2 separate regions of the Homo sapiens genome follow, and region 2 is linked to region 1. Evidence: fine-mapped expression QTL. A gene starts in region 1. The other region holds a variant in brackets. All regions are shown on one strand. Distances are from middle to middle. Region 1 holds the start of TMEM117 (transmembrane protein 117). Region 2 overlaps TMEM117 (transmembrane protein 117).

Evidence for each region. PIP is the estimated chance that this variant, and not a neighbour inherited with it, causes the effect. A credible set is the group of variants that fine-mapping cannot tell apart.
Region 2: its variant is the best candidate, but not a certain one, in a credible set for the expression of TMEM117 in whole blood (INTERVAL, PIP 0.55).

The regions. Positions count from the first base shown.
Region 1 is chr12:43,833,636-43,838,031 of GRCh38, reverse strand. It overlaps TMEM117 (transmembrane protein 117), which reads right to left and starts at 1,951. Exons shown (of 8, transcript NM_032256.3): 1 at 1,836-1,951. RefSeq lists silencers at 1,478-1,710, 1,697-2,136, 2,167-2,276.
Region 2 is chr12:43,871,933-43,876,328 of GRCh38, reverse strand. The region is part of intron 2 of TMEM117 (transmembrane protein 117); the gene reads right to left. Among named protein-coding and RNA genes, the nearest start is that of TMEM117, 38 kb to the right of the region's middle. The variant AC/C (reference allele first, on the strand shown) is at 2,324.

The DNA.
Region 1 (4,396 bases):
AAGTCAATCAATAAAACCACCATAAGTGGTTCTGATAGATTCCAGGATAATATTTGTGGTACCTTAGCTAATTTAGAGGTTTACATCTATAAATCACTTCCTAGATTTTCTCTTCACATTGTCTCAACCTTTAAGTGATTTTTCTTCCCTTGTTCCTATCCTGCAGTCCTTGGGTAAACAAATTGCTTAATCAATGCAAGTTTTTAAAACAGCAACTCCAAAAGCAAAGTAGGTCTAGGGGTCCTCTGAACAGAGAAAACTCTCCATTGAAATGGCAAAATATTTATGAGCCGGAGCACATTATAAAATTAAAATATAATCACTACTATATCCTTTAAAAATGTTTAGACCTCCTTTTCAGTGATTTGTTTGCAATAAGGAATTGCCAGCCCGGAGCAGTGGCTCACACCTGTAATGTCCGCATTTCTGGAGGCCAAGGCGGGCGGATCACGAAGTCAAGAGTTCGAGACCAGCCTGACCAACATGGTGAAACCCCATCTCTACTAAAAATACAAAAATTAGCCAGGCATGGTGGCGCGCGCCTGTAATCCCAGCTACTCAGGAGGCCGAGGCAGGAGAATCCCTTGAACCCGGGAGGCGGAGGTTGCAGTGAGCTGGAAATCATGGCACTGCACTCCAGCCTGAGCGACAGAGCCCGACTCCATGAAAGAAAGAAAGACAGAAATTAAAGAAAAGAAAAGAAATTGCCATGATCATATTCCAAACACAATGCCAAAGAAAAACACATTTAATGAATTAAATAGAATTCATGTGAAAAGTTTATTTTTTAATGACAGCTTAAAGAAACTTAGATAAAACTGACAAGAGCCAGTTTCTCATCACACGGATCAGATGGAGGGTGGAATAGGAGGGATAAATGCCTGAGACAAAATGTCAAAATCCATAATTACTTTTAAACTATAAAGACTTGGGGGATAAAAGAAAGTATATCCATGGTCAAATGTCAATACTTTACAAAAAAAAATGGGGTTTACAGGGATTCAACTACTTTTATATTCAATAAATTGGAAGACCTTGTTTCTGAAGCCAAAACAAAACCCTGTAGCTTCCTAGAAGTCCTTCCTTGGATTTCAGACAATACATCATTTATAATTGGGGGCAATACATACCCTTATATTCAACATACTTTTACTCATTTTTTTTCCTTTTTGGTTCCTGATAAGCATGTGATGTTTACTCCCGTGTCTCTCTCTCTCTCACACACGCACACCCACACACACATACACATACTTCATTGTTCCACAGAGGGTAGAACACACTTGTGGGCCTGTGGCATTTTCAAAAATAGGAATGAAAAAAAATAGTTTTATTTAGTCACGATGAAGTTAGCAAACACCCAAACACCCAAGTCTTTGTTTTTTTCCCAAGAACAACACCTACGAACTGCAACCTGTTAATTTAATTAAGAAAAATAGGGCTTTTACTCAGTTCCTAGGCTAGGAATCGCTGAAGCAAGGAAAGTTCAAGGTCTGCTCTCCCGCCGTATCTCTGCACACACACTGGAGCCGGGAGTTTGAGGACTCCCACCAAGAGCCTTTCGCCCGGGAGTCTCCTCTGCCCTTAGCCAGAGGGCTGGCGCGTCCCCCCTCCCTCCTTGACACTTCACCCTGCCTCTTTGGCTGCCATCCCCAGGAAGGCAGGAGCAGAGGCGCCGGAGAATTCGGGGGCCGGGCCGGGGTTCCGCGGCTGCTTCCGCACTCGCGGGCAGTGACGAGGTGGCAGCCGGGACACGGGCGGCAGGGCCGGGAGGGCTCCGCTGCGGCTGGACCGAACGGCTGGGGAGGCTCGCCCAACGCCCGGGCCCACGTACTCACCCGAAGGGTCGCGCGGGGCGCGGGGCGACTGCACACGGGATTCGCGGTCGAGCACAGCCCTCGGCGCGCCGGCGGCCTCGCTGGGAAGCGCGGCGAGACGGGCCGGCGGCGTCGCTGCCGCTGCTGCTGTCACGGAGCTATAAATACCGGCTCGGCCCACACCCGCCGCCGCCTACGCCGGGCGCCCTCCGCGCCGGTGCTTCACCGCGCCGCGCTCCCGCCGCAAAGTCCGCGGCCGCGGGCCGGGCAACGCGAGCGCAAGGGCACCGGCGCCGCGCAGGTGACCGCGATCATGCCAGCTGTGTGCAACCTCTGCAGCTGGAGGCATGGCTTCTCCCCGCCCCTGCCCTCTCGCCCGCACCACGGGCTGACTCCAGCCCGCGGGCCGCGTGCGCCACGGGCCGAGCCTGCCCGGGCCGGCCCGCCTCTGCAGAGCGGCAGCTGCAGGCGAGGGACGGACTCAGGAACCTGGTGGGGGTTGGGGGGCGGCTGACAGAAAATCCACCATCCTGCAGGGAACCAATGAGGGTCCCACTGGAATGTCCTCGAAGAGCTACAAACTTTCGAAAGCAATCTCAGGTCGCAAAACATGATTTCTGTTTTTGTCTGTTGGTGGTGTGGGGATGTGGGGGTGGGGAGAGGCAGAGCCCATGAGGAGTATGAGAAGTCTTCCACTTACTTTCCAACCTGCCTGGTATCACACACACACACACACATATGCACACATACACACATTCATACACACATAGAGATGCACAAATACACTCATGCATACATATGTATACACACATAAGCACACGTATACACATGCATACACACATATGTACATCAGCACACATACTCATGTACAATTTTTAAAGTTTTTGCAGTCTGAGGCTCTCCGGAGCCTGTCATTCTATGATACCTAAATGATACCTCTGCGGCATAGGGCAGGAAGACCCTTTGACTACATCTGACCAATTCCTCTCTTCCTGAATGTAACCTCCTTTCCATCATGTATGTGTGGCCTCTGTTTCCTTCCACACCTAATAGCAACTGCTACCTCAGTTTACCGGTTGCTGAAAACGTGTTAACAGCTGCTATCCAGCATGCTAATATTTTGTGGTAATGGAAGTTATCACTAGTGTATATAATCAAATGGAAAATAGGATTTCTATATGCCCATATTAGCAAACTTATGAAGGCAGAGCTAGGCCCTCCCCTGTACTGGTAGCCTGATTCAGGAATGGGTGGATGGCAAGAGGGAGAACTGAGATGTCCGCGGATTTTAAGATGGGATGGAGAGAGCCATGCCCAAGTGCCATAGGGTAGTTTATCTGCATAGGCATAATTGGGAATTCACTGCCATACTTCCCACTAATTTGACATTTTTCTAGCTTCCAAAAATGACCACGTATATATGGATATATATAAATATGCCTCTCATATATATGAGAGTGAACTCAATCCACTGCATAATCAATTGAACTACATGGGTGTCTACTAAAATGAGCTTCAGTTCATCAGAACCGAAATGTCATTCAGCAGCTTGTCTTCTGTCTTCTTAAGAAATAGAACCCCCACATCCCCACACCACTGGATATATAGTAGTCAATCATTTGTGATCATTTTACAGAACTCTTAACTAGTAAGGTTCTCTTTTGTAATGCTTTAACAAGTTTTGCCAGAAAGAGTTGTTGCCTATGCTAGCACTTGGTACATTTTACTATTACACTTTTGTTGTTCTTTTTTGCAACTTCTTTTTTCTCCCACTACGCTATGAACTCTTCAAGGGCAGAGATTAAATCTTACTCATGATTGTATCCTTAGTACCTAACATAGTAAGTTATAGTAATGGCTCATAGATAGTGGATTAATTCCACATATTAGTCATTATATTCCACTGTGCTTTTATAACTGTAATTAATATTATTCTCTAAAGAATTTTTAAACTGTTACACGTGGGTAACTGTTTAACAAAGGTTCCATATGCTATATTTTCCTTGTATCTCCATTTAAAGCAAGGACTCTTCAGTCAGTTAAAACTGAAAAATAGTAAAGCTTCACAAATTATACAGAATACTGAGGTCTGTAATTTATTTCTTTTATTACTACTATTTTCTTTGAGACAGAGTCTCACTCTGTACCCCAGGCTGGAGTGCAGTGGCACAATTATAGCCTACTGCAGCCTTGACCTGCTGGGCTCAAGTGATCCTCCCACCTCAGCCTCCAGAGTAGATGGGACAACAGGCACACACCACCACACCTGGCTAATTTTTGTATTTTTTGTAGAGACAGGGTTTTGCCACATTGTCCAGGCTGGTCTCAAACTCCTGAGCTCAAGTGATCTGCCCACCTCATCCTCTCAAAGTGCTGAGGTTACAGGTGTGAGCCACCATGCCCAGCCTATTTTTTTTTTCTTTTTTAAAGAGACAGAGTCTTGCTCTGTCACCCAGGCTGGCGTGCAGTGGTGCAATCACAGCTCATTGCAACTTCAAACTCCTGGGCTCAAGCAATCCTGCTGACTCACCCTCCCAAGTAGCTGGGACCACAGGTGCACACCACCACACCTAGCTAATTTT
Region 2 (4,396 bases), 38 kb before region 1:
CCCGCATGGCAAGAAGGTGTGTCTCAACTCTAGGAAACAACAGAGACTCAGAGAGCAAAATCAGCCAGAGAATGCCACCACACCTGAACAATCCTAGATAAATCAAATCATGAGTTACACTAGCTGTTGTTCTTCATCATAAATGCAAGGTGAACAATAACCGGAAAGGAAAGGACAAAGTCATGAGAACAGGATGAGCCACTGGATACCATGCAGATCATGAAGGGCACACTTTTCTCTTGTACCTTCAGATGACATCTTGGAGGAGAGGAAGAAGAATTCTGAGATACTAAGTATTTTACTCAAAAGAACTAAGCCAATCAAAACTATCCCAACAAGGTTTTCAATTTTGAAGACTAAAAGTTTAAGCCATCAGAATTATTCCATATGAATAAGTGGACCAAGTGGGACTAAATGCGGGTTTTCCAGATGAAGCTTGTGGACTCATATCATCCCAGGGGAAAAAAAAACGTAATATATAATGGGGAAGAGAGAAGAGTGAGTAGGACATGAGTGCAAGGTAAAGTAGCCTCTGATTTCTTTCCCTTATTCACTGTTAGCCCGGCCCAATAATGGAGTGATAATTTGTCATTCTTCCTTTCAATAGTAAATAAAGTAGCCCAACAGGTTTTTGTTCTAGGCCCTGTCCCAAATTTAATTCTTTGAATTTTAGGCAGCTAGATAATCAATCCAACCAAAGTCACAGTCAGAGGAAAAGGCAAAGAAAATAATCAAGAGATAGAGAAATGAATTTATGAGAGAAACTTTATTGGACACAGTCCTGCATGACTTTTAGATTACAAATGAGAAACATATAAGCCAAGTTGAATTGCTTAAGCTACTGAAAGCAAAAAGCAACAGCATATCCCAAAAGCTCAGATGTGGATTTCCAGGTATCTCAAAAAAATAAAATAAAAATATATCATGTAAACCTGCTTCAGCGTTCTGAGCCCTCACTACTGTTGATAGTGACATTCAGCTACTGGATCTCCAGTACAAGTCAGATGGCTCCCGGCACACCTTTAGCACAACCCTTTCTACTTATCCTGTTGCCCTACCCGATTCTGACTCTTTTCTCACACACACACACACACACACACACACACACTTCCCCACCATTCTTTTCAACCCCCTGTCCTGAGTTTAAGCAAATCTTACTGCTGTAAAGAAGCTGTTTGTATTTAACTTCTTACAAATACATCATTTACAAAATAATTTTGGGCGACTTGTATCTATTACTTGCAGCTCAAAATTATAGAGGCTAACCTGTTTTTTACGGAAGATAATTAACACAGTTTGTATGAACAAGTTCAGCTCCCCTGAACTTAAGAATACTTATCAAATGTCAAATGTTATTTATTAGTGAGAAAATGTAATTCCCACCTGCATCCCCAGAGGGATTTCAGTGACCCTGGCCTCACTTCATCCCTGCGGATCTAATTTGATATCCCCATTACTCTTCCAGAAATGAAGGATTTCAGTGCATATTTAAATGGTAATGAACTCAGTACATTAGATACTAGCTCAAATTAATTCAACTGATACAAACGGAGTACTCATTCTGTGCTATACTGACAAAGGACTTAAACTGAAAAACATGTCAAATTAAAAAGAATGCTAAAAGTGCAGGATCAACTATCCTAGAACCTGTGTAGACTAACAAAATGGTTGGGGAAAATAGACTATATGAGGCTATCTCCCAGGATTTAATATGGCTTTTTGTTTGCTTGCTTTTTTGAGACGGAGTCTTGTTCTTGTCGCCCAGGCTGGAGTGCAGTGGCGCAATCTCGGCTCATTGCAACCTCTGCCTCCTGGGTTCAAGCGATTCTCCTGCCTCAGCCTCCTGAGTAACTGGGATTACAGGTGCCTGCCACCAGGCCTGGCTAAATTTTTTTTTTTTTTGTACTTTTAGTAGGGACGGGGTTTCACCATGTTGACCAGGCTGGTCTCAAACTCCTGACCTCAAGTGATCCACCCACCTTGGCCTCCCAAAGTGCTGGGCTAACAGGCATGAGACACCATGCCCAGCCTTAATATGTTTTTTAATATAACTTTCTGACCTCTTACCCATGAAATGAGGAGACAAATTAAAGTTCCATAATTCCTTCCTATTTATTGTAATGCAAAAGTTAAATGTCTTGTTGTCTTCACTATTTTCATTCCTTCCTACAATGTTACTGAAGTAAGAAATTTATCTAGTCCAAAGAGAAAAAAAGCAATAATTACCAATGTGGGAAAAACTAAGATAGGAAAATAGAACAGAATAAATAAATGAAAAGAAGGGAGTTAAAATGTAAGACTAGAATATAACAAATGAAAAAAA[AC/C]ATGGATTTTTCAGCTCAGATTAAAAGCAAGCTACAACAAAAAATAATTATAACTCACTGGCTTTAATAATAAATGATCAAAAGGCAGTTGGAAGAATAAAAGAAATGAAAGAGAAAACAAGTATATGCAGATAGCTTTAAGGTAGAGAAAAAGGAATGCAAAAGACAAAAATAAAATAGCAAAGCTTTAAGAGAACTTATCAAAGTATTCTTCTGAGAACCTTCTTGGTAAAAGGCTCTCAGAATGAAATTTTGAGAAATATAAAAGGAAAAAATAAAATAAAATAAAACGAAAAAATTAAAACTAACTGGAAAGATACAGTAAAAATAGGTAGAAACTGTACAGAAAGAAAGACAAAATTTAAGATTAGAACAAAAGTGAGTACAGTTTTCTTTTTTTAATGACATAAAATTAACGAATGTTTTCCTGCCTCAGCATAAGCCTCAGATTTTTATTAATATCCAGGACAAGCAAGAAGATAGCTAAATGTGTTTTATTGCATTTTGGTATTAAAATTAATTGTTAAATAAGAACGTCATTAGGGTACTAAACCTCTGAATGTTGGATGAATTTGATACCTTTCCATCATATAGTAAAGAGAATTTCAAATATATTTGTAAAATGTAATTATATTCTCACATACTAAAAGGTTTTGATTAAAGTGGATTCTCAAATACTTAACTTTTAAAATAATCTCTGTGCTGCACAACACTTAAGTTTGCCTAATTATACTCTACTAACCCTATTAGAAGAAAAATGAGACTTTCATATTTAAACTGTAAGTCAGTACTTTGAGAACTCAAATTCACTAAGTATTATCCTTCCATTAAAAGGAGTTTTAATTAGAAGCAGTTTTAATTAGAAACTATTATTTCTATCACCTTTAATCAGTTTGCAAAATCCTCTGTCTCTCCTCAAGCATCCATCACTATTGAGCATCCTCTTCCTAAGATTTTATTTCTCATGGCACCTTTGATGAAATTCTCTACCGATCTTCCTACATCCTCATATTGCCCCTACATTTTAGAGTCTGACTTATCTTTTATTTCAAGATATTTTCCAGTGCTATAAAACATCTCATTTGCATCATCATTTTTTATCTTTCTCTCTTTGCCACAAAATAAGAATCAAGAGGGGAAAAAAGAAAGCTATAATCTGTGGATTTTACAGAAATTTCATATTGCTATTAAGGTATTAAGAATTCAAAGACTGGTTGAATTTTATTTCATGACAATTTCTTTGTACCACAAGGCACGACACACTACTTGATGGTAGAGTGGGAAAGCACACTATTATCTTAACTGTCATAACTGGAAGATGGAAAGATTCAAAAATACCTTTGTGAGTGGGCATTATCAACAAATTATGCTCAATGTCTTCCTGTACAATATGTCATGTAATGATTTATGATCTTCCATTCTTGAATAAGCTAATTCTCTGGTAACATTAAAATACATACAAAAGCTCTGAAAAAATAAGTATTTGAAATTCTCAACTAAAAATGAGCAAATTAGATGCCCAAAAGAAAGTATCTTACAGAAAAGTTATTTCTTAATACCTGCTATGTCACTGAGTTCCACTGGCCGAACAGTCAAAATGCCTTCATCATAGCTTTTCTGTAGTTAGAGGTACAGACGCCTTTTTCATTTATTTTTAGAATAGTATTCGTGCTCATAATGATGGTCTGTGCCAATATTGTTTTCAAGCCAATCTTTGATTACTACAGGATATAAGCCAAAAATAGAAAATAATGAACCTGCAATTGAGATAGGTAGCAGGTAGTTCTGAAGATAGAGTGCTTTGAAATGCCTTAGTCACATCTCACTCCGCTAAAAAGGCAGGAATAGACCAATGCAGGAATATTACTTGAAGCCAGGAATTCAAGACAGGCCTGAGTAACAAGGCAAGACCCCATCTCTACAAATTAAAAAGTAAAAAAGGAATTAGCTGAGCATGGTGGCTCACTCCTGTAGTCCAAGCTACTGAGGAGGCTGAGGCGGGAGGATCACCTGAACCCAGGGGGTCAAAGCTGCAGTGAGCTATGATTACTCACATCCATAACCTTTGAGCA